Homo sapiens: one gene and its partners. The protein of the gene in region 3 interacts with the protein of the main gene of each other region in a pairwise test. Each region holds a gene or a part of one and is shown on either strand. Other genes may lie near its edges. The genes, in order: IFITM3, AIG1 and CD53.

Evidence for each region.
Region 1: the proteins of CD53 (region 3) and IFITM3 interact in binary tests that used the Homo sapiens proteins (3 or more experiments, as listed by UniProt).
Region 2: the proteins of CD53 (region 3) and AIG1 interact in binary tests that used the Homo sapiens proteins (3 or more experiments, as listed by UniProt).

Annotation. Positions count from the first base shown.
Region 1 is NC_000011.10:319,026-322,510, forward strand, and holds IFITM3 (interferon-induced transmembrane protein 3), read right to left. Parts: upstream 1,836-3,485; 5' UTR 1,789-1,835; coding exon 1,540-1,788; intron 966-1,539; coding exon 813-965; 3' UTR 651-812; downstream 1-650.
Region 2 is NC_000006.12:143,336,773-143,340,522, reverse strand, and holds part of AIG1 (androgen-induced gene 1 protein), read right to left. Parts: intron 2,546-3,750; coding exon of another isoform or gene 2,529-2,545; exon of another isoform or gene 885-2,528; coding exon 847-884; 3' UTR 1-846. UniProt on the Homo sapiens protein: Hydrolyzes bioactive fatty-acid esters of hydroxy-fatty acids (FAHFAs), but not other major classes of lipids. Show a preference for FAHFAs with branching distal from the carboxylate head group of the lipids.
Region 3 is NC_000001.11:110,889,998-110,893,747, forward strand, and holds part of CD53 (leukocyte surface antigen CD53), read left to right. Parts: intron 1-1,394; 5' UTR 1,395-1,411; coding exon 1,412-1,474; intron 1,475-2,347; coding exon 2,348-2,536; intron 2,537-3,750. UniProt on the Homo sapiens protein: Structural component of specialized membrane microdomains known as tetraspanin-enriched microdomains (TERMs), which act as platforms for receptor clustering and signaling.

The DNA of each region.
Region 1 (3,485 bases), on a different chromosome or scaffold from region 3:
GGGAGCAGGGCCCATACCCGCTGGACGGGAGGGGGCAGCTGCCACGAAGCAGCACCTGGTCACCCAGGAGGGGCTGCGAGGCCCGGGGCTCCTTCAGCTGCTGCCCTGGGCACAAAGCCCCCTCCCTCCCACGGGCCCTGAGCTGCCCACATCTGCAGGACTGGCTGCTCCAGACAGCTCGGAGGCAGGCAGCGCGGTGCCCCCTCCACCCCGAGGAACTAAAGCCAGGTCCCCAGCACCACAGAGCAGGGCCTGGGAGCAGCTGGGGAGCCGGTGCCACCTTGCCCCTCCCTGGCCCTGCTGGGGGCTTAACCCTTCCCTCTGTCCTGAGCCGACAGCCTGGATTGCCGACAGGCCGCGAGCGTGGCCTTGGGCCCAGGGTGTCCCGGACTCAGCACTGACGTTCCCGGAAAGAGCCCACGTTGAGTAGGAGCTGAGACCTGCAGGACACAGGAACTCCTCCCAGGGTCCTGGATCCAGCTGCTGCTCACGGCAGGAGGCCCGAAACCAGAAGGCCTGAGCACTTGCCCGGTCCCCAAGAGATGCACAGAGGCCGGAAGGGGCAGTGCAGGGGCTGACCAACCTGCTCAGTCTCAGAACCACGCTCCGAACCCTCAGCCAGACCCCTCCCCAGGTGAAGTCGCAGCAGCACCAGAAACACGTGCACTTTATTGAATGCCATTGTAGAAAAGCGTGTGAGGATAAAGGGCTGATACAGGACTCGGCTCCGGGGGCAGGGCGAGGAATGGAAGTTGGAGTACGTGGGATACAGGTCATGGGCAGAGCTCCTGGCCTCAGTGATGCCTCCTGATCTATCCATAGGCCTGGAAGATCAGCACTGGGATGACGATGAGCAGAATGGTCATGAGGATGCCCAGAATCAGGGCCCAGATGTTCAGGCACTTGGCGGTGGAGGCATAGGCCTGGGCCCCGGTCACGTCGCCAACCATCTTCCTGTCCCTAGACTGGGGGAGAGGAGATGGTGAGGGGACCAGGATCCCCCAGCTGAGAGCCGCGTGCTATGGCTCCGTCTCCTCATTGGCTCTCCCCGCCCTGAGATCAGGGACCACCTCCTCCCCTTCCTCACCCGGGCTCAGACTCTCCAGGAGCCTCGGGGCTCATCCTCCTTCTGCCTTGACCTCAGCACAGGCTGTTCTCCCCACCATGGGGTGAAGTCACCTGTGAGTTCCCTTCTCACTTTCTGGGAGAGCCTGGGTGCCAGTCTGGAAGGTGAAGGTGTAATTTCTTACTGGGCTATAGGGAGAACTGCTCTGGGCTAGTGGATAGCCGGGGACAGACTCTGAGCCAGCCAGCCAGCCTCCTGGAGCCTCCTCCTAAACCTGCACTGGGCAGATTCCCCAAGCCACACACACACACAGATCACACAGACAAAGCCACTGACGTGGGCACACACGGGACAGAGGTGCACACAAACTCACAGTCACAGGGACACACAAGTCCCCACCCCAGGCAGCATGTGGGCAGGTGGAGCTCCAGGCTCAGCGGCACCCTCTGAGCATTCCCTGGGGCCATACGCACCTTCACGGAGTAGGCGAATGCTATGAAGCCCAGGCAGCAGGGGTTCATGAAGAGGGTGTTGAACAGGGACCAGACGACATGGTCGGGCACGGAGGTCTCGCTGCGGATGTGGATCACGGTGGACGTCGGGGGAGCAGGGTTGTGGGGCGCCCCCAGCACAGCCACCTCGTGCTCCTCCTTGAGCATCTCATAGTTGGGGGGCTGGCCACTGTTGACAGGAGAGAAGAAGGTTTGGACAGTGTGATTCATGGTGTCCAGCGAAGACCAGCGGCGGTCGGGTTACTGGGATGGTTCTCAGTGAGCCCTCCCTTTCCCCAGTAGTTTCGGTTTCTCAACAGTTTCCTTTTCCTGGCATTTGTCAAATCGGGATTTGGCCGGGGCCAGATGAGGGCGGAACAAATTCCTGAGGATCAAATTACTTTAGGAGAGGGAGGAAAGAGGGGCTGAGGGCTAAGAGGGGCTTCCTCTCTAGAGCCCAAGGGAGCACAAGGCTCATCTTGTTAGTGGTGTGGGGTCCTGGAGACTTCCCCTGTGTTGGGGGTCTCCACACCCCAGGCCAGCAGCTGCAGGACCCCACTGTCCCGGTTCAGGGCTCCTGCCAGGCCTGCGCTGACGCCTCCACACTCCAGGCCCCACAACCGTTCCCCCAAAGCCCTCACCTCTGCCGGGCGCCGCGGCTCACGCCTGTAATCCCAGCACTTTGGGAGGCTGAGGTGGGAGGATCATGAGGTCAGGAGATCGAGACCATCCTGGCTGACACGGTGAAACCCCGTCTCCCATAACCCTCACTGTGGTGCCCAGGCAGCTGGATTATCCCATTACCTTCACTATGGTGCCCAGGCAGCTGGATTATCCCATTACCTTCACTATGGTGCCCAGGCAGCTGGATTATCCCATTACCTTCACTATGGTGCCCAGGCAGCTGGATTATCCCATTACCTTCACTATGGTGCCCAGGCAGCTGGATTATCCCATTACCTTCACTATGGTGCCCAGGCAGCTGGATTATCCCATTACCTTCACTATGGTGCCCAGGCAGCTGGATTATCCCATAACCCTCACTGTGGTGCCCAGGCAGCCGGATTATCCCATTACCTTCACTATGGTGCCCAGGCAGCTGGATTATCCCATAACCCTCACTGTGGTGCCCAGGCAGCCGGATTATCCCATTACCTTCAGTGTGGTGCCCAGGCAGCCGGATTATCCCATTACCTTCAGTGTGGTGCCCAGGCAGCTGGATTATCCCATAACCCTCACTGTGGTGCCCAGGCAGCTGGATTATCCCATTACCTTCACTATGGTGCCCAGGCAGCTGGATTATCCCATAACCCTCACTGTGGTGCCCAGGCAGCCGGATTATCCCATTACCTTCAGTGTGGTGCCCAGGCAGCCGGATTATCCCATTACCTTCAGTGTGGTGCCCAGGCAGCTGGATTATCCCATTACCTTCACTATGGTGCCCAGGCAGCTGGATTATCCCATAACCCTCACTGTGGTGCCCAGGCAGCCGGATTATCCCATTACCTTCAGTGTGGTGCCCAGGCAGCCGGATTATCCCATTACCTTCAGTGTGGTGCCCAGGCAGCTGGATTATCCCATAACCCTCACTGTGGTGCCCAGGCAGCTGGATTATCCCATTACCTTCACTATGGTGCCCAGGCAGCTGGATTATCCCATAACCCTCACTGTGGTGCCCAGGCAGCCGGATTATCCCATTACCTTCAGTGTGGTGCCCAGGCAGCCGGATTATCCCATTACCTTCAGTGTGGTGCCCAGGCAGCTGGATTATCCCATAACCCTCACTGTGGTGCCCAGGCAGCTGGATTATCCCATTACCTTCACTATGGTGCCCAGGCAGCTGGATTATCCCATAACCCTCACTGTGGTGCCCAGGCAGCCGGATTATCCCATTACCTTCAGTGTGGTGCCCAGGCAGCTGGATTATC
Region 2 (3,750 bases), on a different chromosome or scaffold from region 3:
CGCCACTGTACTCCAGCCTGGGCGACAGAGTGAGACTCCATCTGGAAAAAAAGAAAAAAAAAATTTGTTTTGGAGTTATCAAAAAGATTCACATTTTTTAAAATCCAAAAATTATAGGAAAGAACCAGGTTCAGTAAACCCATTTTCAACAGGTAATAAAAATGAAAAGGAGATACTAATGCTGTTAGGATTTTGAGATGCACAATGCAGACGTCAGGTTCAGGGTGGCTTTGTCTTTATTAGTCAGCATTTGCATCTAGGAAAAGTTTCACATGATTAAATCAAGAGATGCAATACACTCAGGCTTTTCATGAAATTGACATCATTATTACAAATGGTGCTCATTTGAGGCAACTGTGACATTATGCAATGAGAAACATCTGTCCCCTTCCCTCTCAGGTCCCCATGGTGGCCTAGGTTCATGATTACAGCCACCTTTAGGATTAAATACACAAAAGCCTTACTCTATATATGCCCCTTTGACTTTAACATATTTCTCAAAAAGAAGTGCAATAAACTTTTATTCTTTCTTGATTAGATGGAGTTACAATTGCCAAAATAAAAATCCAAGGTCCAATTCTGGTTTTAAAACTAGAAAAGGAAAAAATGTTATTATCAGTAATGACTTTGGGAAGAATTCTTTAACACACAGTGAGGGTGAGTTCTTTTGGAAACAACTGTATTCTATGTTTATACATATTTATATATAAAAGGTGTCCTCATTGGGGGAGGGGGGTGCTGATGCCACCAAGTTCCTTTGAAGCCTTTTCTCCCCCACTGCCAATGCCCGAGGGGAAGGAGTCTTCAATGGCGGCTCAATCTAGCTCTTGCGTTTAGACTTGGATCTCATTCCAATTTAGGCTTTTCTTTCTCTTCTTCCATACCTAGAAATACAGGCAAAGTGTTTTATTTGAGCATCAGATTAAACCACAAGCAGTTTGTTTAATCTGGCTTGCTAACACTACTCACACATCCACTCATCTGCCCTCACTTCTCCCATTCACCCTCCTGACACACCCCCTATTCCCTCCTAGCTAAGAAGGAAAGCCATGCACAACTTTCTCCAGAAACATCCTCAGTGACCTCTCTTCCCCACCCTTTCCACAGAATCAGGACACAGCATCTCTGGGACACACCCAGCTCCTATGGCCTCTGGGAGACAAGGCTTCAAGTTGATTCATGACTTGCTGAGTTTGCATGGAAATCCCAGCTAGACTGCTTTTTAAACCAGCTTCTGGCAACATGAGGTGTGCAACTCATGAGTTTCAAACAGACTTCATTTATTTTTACTTTAGTCCTGTCTCTTCCTAAGGCAAGGACTTTGGATTTTAAAAAGCCATGCTTTTTTTTTTCTTGTTTTCTTTTTAAAGTTCATAGAGAGTTTATTAGCCATAAGAGCTGTTTATTTCCATACTCATGAATCTTAAACTGCAATTCTCTCTCTATTCAACCCAATCCTGGTAGAATCATGTTTTTCTTCCTGAAGGACTTGTATGTACTGGACCAGTAAGAACCTTTGCCTGTTGTCTGTAGAGAATAGTCGATGATGTTTCATGTTCCTGAAGATGAAAATGTTCATCATTTTTAGGAATTATAGTTAAATCTGGCAAGTGCTTCTTGCTTTTTTCTTTTTCTTGTACCTAAACATTTTTTGAATCATACCAAATTCTCAGTTTCTTTGTTTCAATAGCAAAAATGAAACAAAATAACTTAAAATACCACTTTGCAGGTTTTGTTAGTATTCTTTCATAAATTGCAAGCTTTCTGAGGGTAGGGCCCTTCCCTATTTTGTTCCCCAGCACCTAACATAGTGTGTGTGTCTCATTGCAGGAGCTCAATTAATCTTTGCTGAATAAAATTAATAAGCAATGAACACAGAGAAGACCTCAGAAGCCTGGACTAGTGGAAAGCAGAACAAAATATGGGACTCCACAATATGAAAATTATAAAATTTAACCCCAGAGGGTCATAATGTTAGGGCTTACAATAGGAAGGACTCCCCCACCACATAACCCCAGCTCCTGGTATATGTTTTGTGCTGTCAGAGTAGTGGTGGTGGAATGTGGGTAACGTGCTCTGAATGAATGTCCCCAGATGATCTTTTATGTTTGGTTTTCATGGCTAAGGAACTGGCAGAGATCTGGAGCACTTTTTCCAAAGTCCTTCTCAGAAATCCTATGAAGGAAAACTTCAAATTGAGGAGTAAGGACATCTGACGGGAGGAGGAACAGGTTTGAAGGCAAGAAGGTACAACACGCCTTCGTTGTTGGGTAACCACGGAAAGAAGAAAACAGCACAGATTCAGCTCAAACAGCACATGTGTCTTGAACCTCAGCTCTGTCCATATTCCCTCTCCTGTGGAGAAGCTATCAGGGGCTAAGAGCAGTTTGCTTTTCTTTTTAAAGTCTGTTTTTTCCAAAGCGTTCTCCTGCAGATGGGTTGACTTGGCAGCAGTGCTGGAATCTTCAAAAGCGCGGGTGGAGAACGGGGGGTATTCATTGACCTAGAGAGGGAAAATGGCTTCCCACCTACTTTAGTTTGGCAGCTGTGAGGTAGACAGAAAAAATTAGACAGCTGTAAATAATGTTTGCAAGAACCAGAGATAAAATTTCCAGGCAAAGGGCAGGAAGAAACCTATCGCAAAGCGAAGGCAGGATACACTTTTGGGACCAGAGGGGACAAGACTGCAGGGCGCTGAGGGAGTCAGTCACATGCCCTTCCTGCAGGCCGGTGGAGGGCTCCACCAGGGGGCAGTGCTGGGACATCGCTAGACCTGGATGGGCCTGGGGGGAAATGACCTGCACGGGTAGCTGGAGGAGAAGAGGTGCAGGTTTCTGCACACATAGACGTCTCCTGTCTCCCCGCTTGCCTACTTTCTCTGTCCTCACACCAACCTTTTGGTTTTGAAAAGACTCATTTCTGGTCTTACAAAATGTAGCTTTAGTAAGACTGGTCAGATATACCAAAATTGGGATAAAGTCTTAGCTTAAGTAAAGAAATATTTCAGCTGTGAATTGTGTCCCCCCCCGCGCTCCACCCCGCCAAACTGCTACATCGAAGTGCTTAACTCTCAGTACCTCAGATTGGGAGAGAATGCCAAGGGTGTGGCTGGACAGCCATGTGCTAACGAAATTAGGTACGTGACTCACGGATCCAATCAACCTCCACAGTAGATGCCAGAAATAGAGAGGTGGTTATCTGAAAAAGATCCGCGGAGTGCCCTCTTGTCTGACTGCTTGGACCCCCATGACTTGCATGGGAGGCCAATAAGGTTTTTGAGAATTTTATACCAGCAGAAACATTGACAGCATGGACTGAAAGGGACAGAGACAGGATGAAATGAAGGACCAATGGCTTCAAAGATGGTTCAGCGACTGGCTCCTCCTTGGTTGTAGAGGGTAGAACTATTGCCCAGGGCTGTGGGGGTGGGGCTCCTGTGACCCTGTGCCTGGAAGGCAGGGCTATGCATCCCCTCCCCTGTGAGCCCTGAGGACAGAACATCTAGCCAAAGAGGATTATTTTCAAGCCTTAAAATGGAATGGAATTTCCCCCGCTAGCTTCAGACTTGCTTGGGAACCATGATTCTTTCTTTTTTTTTCCCCCTGCAACTTCTCCCTTACAGAATGGGAATGTATATTCTATGCCTGTCCCACCATTCTGTTTTGGAAGCAGATAACTTTTTGTCTGGTTTCCCAGGTTCACACACAGCTAGAGAACAATTTTGCTTCAGGATGACTCATACCCTGAGTG
Region 3 (3,750 bases):
GTTTACAACAGAGAAATTCACTTTATTGTGGAAGAGAAGTAGCTCATCAGGCTTATCTACAGCCTGGATGAACTATTCCCTCAAGACCATGTGATTCCCAGGTACCTTGAAACTGCAAAGGAGATACTATGGATTGCACAAGTGACCCATGCACTGGAAAAGGCATAATTTTAATGGAAAAAAATCACTGCCCCAACATTCTGCTTGATATATCAGTCCTGTGCACGGTTTTAAAAATGAGTCACTTTATAGAATATCATTACCTCTGACAGAAAATTCAAAATTCTGGCCAGGTGCGGTAGCTCATGCCTGTAATCCCAGCACTTTGGGAGGCCGAGGCAGGCGGATCACCTGAGGTCAGAAGTTTGAGGCCAGACTAGGCAACATGGTGAAACTTCGTTTCTACTAAAAATACAAAAATTATCCGGGCATGATGGTGCATGCCTTTAGTCTCAGCTACCTGGGAGGCTGAGGTGGGAGGATCACTTGAGCCTGGGAGGTGAAGGTTGCAGTGAATTGAGATTGTGCCACTGCACTCCAGCCTGGGTGACAGATTGAGACCCTGAAAGAAGAAAGAAAGAAAGAGAGAAAGAGAAAGAGAAAGGAAAGGAAAGCGAAAAGGAAAAGTCAAAATTCTGTATCTGGATTTCTAGAATTGAGAACCAGACATTGGACATTGATGTCCTCACTAAGAAAATGATATTCTAGTTGAAAAAAATAAAGCTTACATTGCTATCTCTTTTTACTTCCCCATTGCATATTTGTTGGCTTGTTTTATCTTTGCTGTAAGACTGTTGTCTTCTGGAGGATAGCTACTGCTTAGTCATGGTTGCATCTTCCACAACATCTAGAACAGAAAACATAAATGTTTCTGCAATAAAAGAATAAATGAGGCGTGGATATGTTCCCCCTACTTTCATGTGGAGAAGTTTACTGATCAAATGTAGCATGTACATAAATCACAGAGTATTTAAGAAACTGGCTGATCAAGCTGTTGGCTTTCTTGATGGCTGATTGACCAGTCCATCCCTGACTTCAAGGGCTTAAGTGCCCAGGCACTAGTTGCTAATGCTGCAGTTAGAGCTAAAGCACTGGCCTGGTCTCTGTCACTGTGACTCATCCTCTTCTAAGAATGGCTCTATTTTCTTCTACAATACTTAATTCAATGTTAAGCATTGTTGGCTTGCCGAATTGGGCAAAAACTGAATGTCTAAGATGAGCCAGTTGGTATTTCAGTTTAGAACTAGGAAAGCGCAGAGTTTGGGGAAACTTTCCAGAGGAGAGCCACAGCTCAAACCCAAGGTAATGCTAGAGATCCCTGAACATTTGTGCACTCTGATCTCTGGCTACCTTACAGAGTGAGGTAACTTACTTTCTTCTTCCTTATTCCTTAGGGCAAGAATATCACGGCATGGGCATGAGTAGCTTGAAACTGCTGAAGTATGTCCTGTTTTTCTTCAACTTGCTCTTTTGGGTAAGTGTATCTCTTCTGAGCACGGTTTAGCTCACCTTTACCCAGCTAAGCTCTCCTCATTCCTCTACTGAAGAGGCTGGTGTGGGGTAAAATGCATGCGTGTTTGGGTCATGTCCAGCACAACCATCCTAGAAACAAAAGAGTAATAATTTTTCCCCTCTTCCTGCCACAGAATAAACCTGCAAAATTGAAAGGTACCAGTGCAGTTATTAATGGAGGTGCTGTTTCTCTCTGAGGGCTTTAGTTTACTACTACTCGTAGCTAACATATATAGGTGAGAAACCTGAGACTGTGCTCTGGATATTGAGTGCCTCTGTTTTTCTTGTCTTTTTTTCTAGATTCCTTGAAACAATAAGTGATTGAAAGGAAAGTCACCCTTTCCAGGGAGGTTTCACTGTATAAAATTCAGCAATTGAATTTCAGATATAGGATGGGTTGGTACTTGTGTATATGAGAAGATTATTATAAGTTTGGCTTCTCTAGTTTTCTGCCTAGCAAGATGAGCTTCCTCAAGCAGGGCATCTTCTCTACATGGTCATGGTTTCTACAGAGAAAGCCATGTGTGAGCGACTGAAAAGATAAGGAAAAAGAAGTTAGACCTATATATGGTGAAGATACTGTGTGGCTCACAGAAGTGATCTTTCCTTGGTATCTGGAGATGGGTAGGAAGAGTTGTGAGTAGGTCTCCACATGAGAAAGCTGAGATTGCCTCTCCAATGTAAGCATGGAAAAGTTTGGTAAAGAAATTGTTCATGAGACTCTTGATTGAGCCAGTTAAAAATAAAGTGATTCTGATCTCAAGGAAGTGAGAATATGAGGAGATACCCAAGAACCACATTTTGCTTCAGGATGTTGTGGGATTCTTCCTTTCAGATCTGTGGCTGCTGCATTTTGGGCTTTGGGATCTACCTGCTGATCCACAACAACTTCGGAGTGCTCTTCCATAACCTCCCCTCCCTCACGCTGGGCAATGTGTTTGTCATCGTGGGCTCTATTATCATGGTAGTTGCCTTCCTGGGCTGCATGGGCTCTATCAAGGAAAACAAGTGTCTGCTTATGTCGGTGAGTCCTTACAGCAGATGTGGTGCCCCAAGTCGGGGAGATGGTGCCTAAATCCCAGGCAAGATGTTTCTTGGTAGATCACTTATAGGCACAGAAAGATCATAGGAAAATGAGATTGGTACCTCAGATCAGCCAAGTCTGCCCAGACCAATAGTATATTATGTATGACTAGGGTCCCACGGACAGGTGAAAGAGGGCATTGCTATCCCCCTTGTAGCCATTTTTATATTGCTAATAATGACTTTTGTCATTATTGTAATTCCCCTTTATAGCATTTTATTTTTTCTTTATGTCTGGATGAAATCAGGTGTCATCCATCTTCCAAAATCCTCCTCATGCTAGCTATTATTATGTACTTTCAGATTCTGACTGAGAGTCGCTAACTAATGGAAAATAATTTCTAGGCTCTTTCCTCCCCAAATGCCAAAGGATGCTTCCTTAACTCATGTCTGCACAAGATACTCCGTAGAGAGATCCAACTTAGGTGAGGGCTCTGGCTGCAGCCATTGAGGTCTAATGTGAGAGATGCTACAGCCTTTTGCATGTTCCCTATCAGGTACTATCCTGAGGAGTACCTTAAGGCTTAGGTTTTGCCTGTAAGCACAGTGCCTGTAGAGCACTGAGCTCTACATTTCTGTAGTGTTCCCAGAACAGAGCTTGGTGTAACAGTGCCACTCTACCAATAGGCGTGGGTTTCTAATCACATTGGTTCTTCCTTAAATCATTTGGTTAATCTTTTTTCCATTATGGTTCAACATTTTGGTGGTGGTTTTTTGTTTTGTTTTTTTCTTCTTGTTGTTGTTTTGGAGATGGAGTTTCACTCTTGTTGCCCAGGCTGGAGTGCAATGGCATGATCTCAGCTCACCACAGCCTCCGCCTCCCGGGTTCAAGCCATTCTCCTGCCTCAGCCTCCCGAGTAGCTGGGATTACAGTCATGCGCCACCATGTCCGGCTAATTCTGAATTTTTAGTAGAGACAGGGTTTCTCCATATTGGTCAAGCTGGTCTCTAACTCCCGACTTTAGGTGATCCACCTGCCTCGGCCTCCCAAAGTGTTGGGATTATAGGCGTAAGCCACTGCGCCCAGTCTGTATGGGTCAACTCTTAAACTGGAGCCAAGAGAAAGAATTTTTTAAAAAGTCCCTCTTCTCAGATAGTTGTCAGACTAATGGCAAAGGATGGAAGATAGCAGACATGGGGTAAGGCAAATGTTTT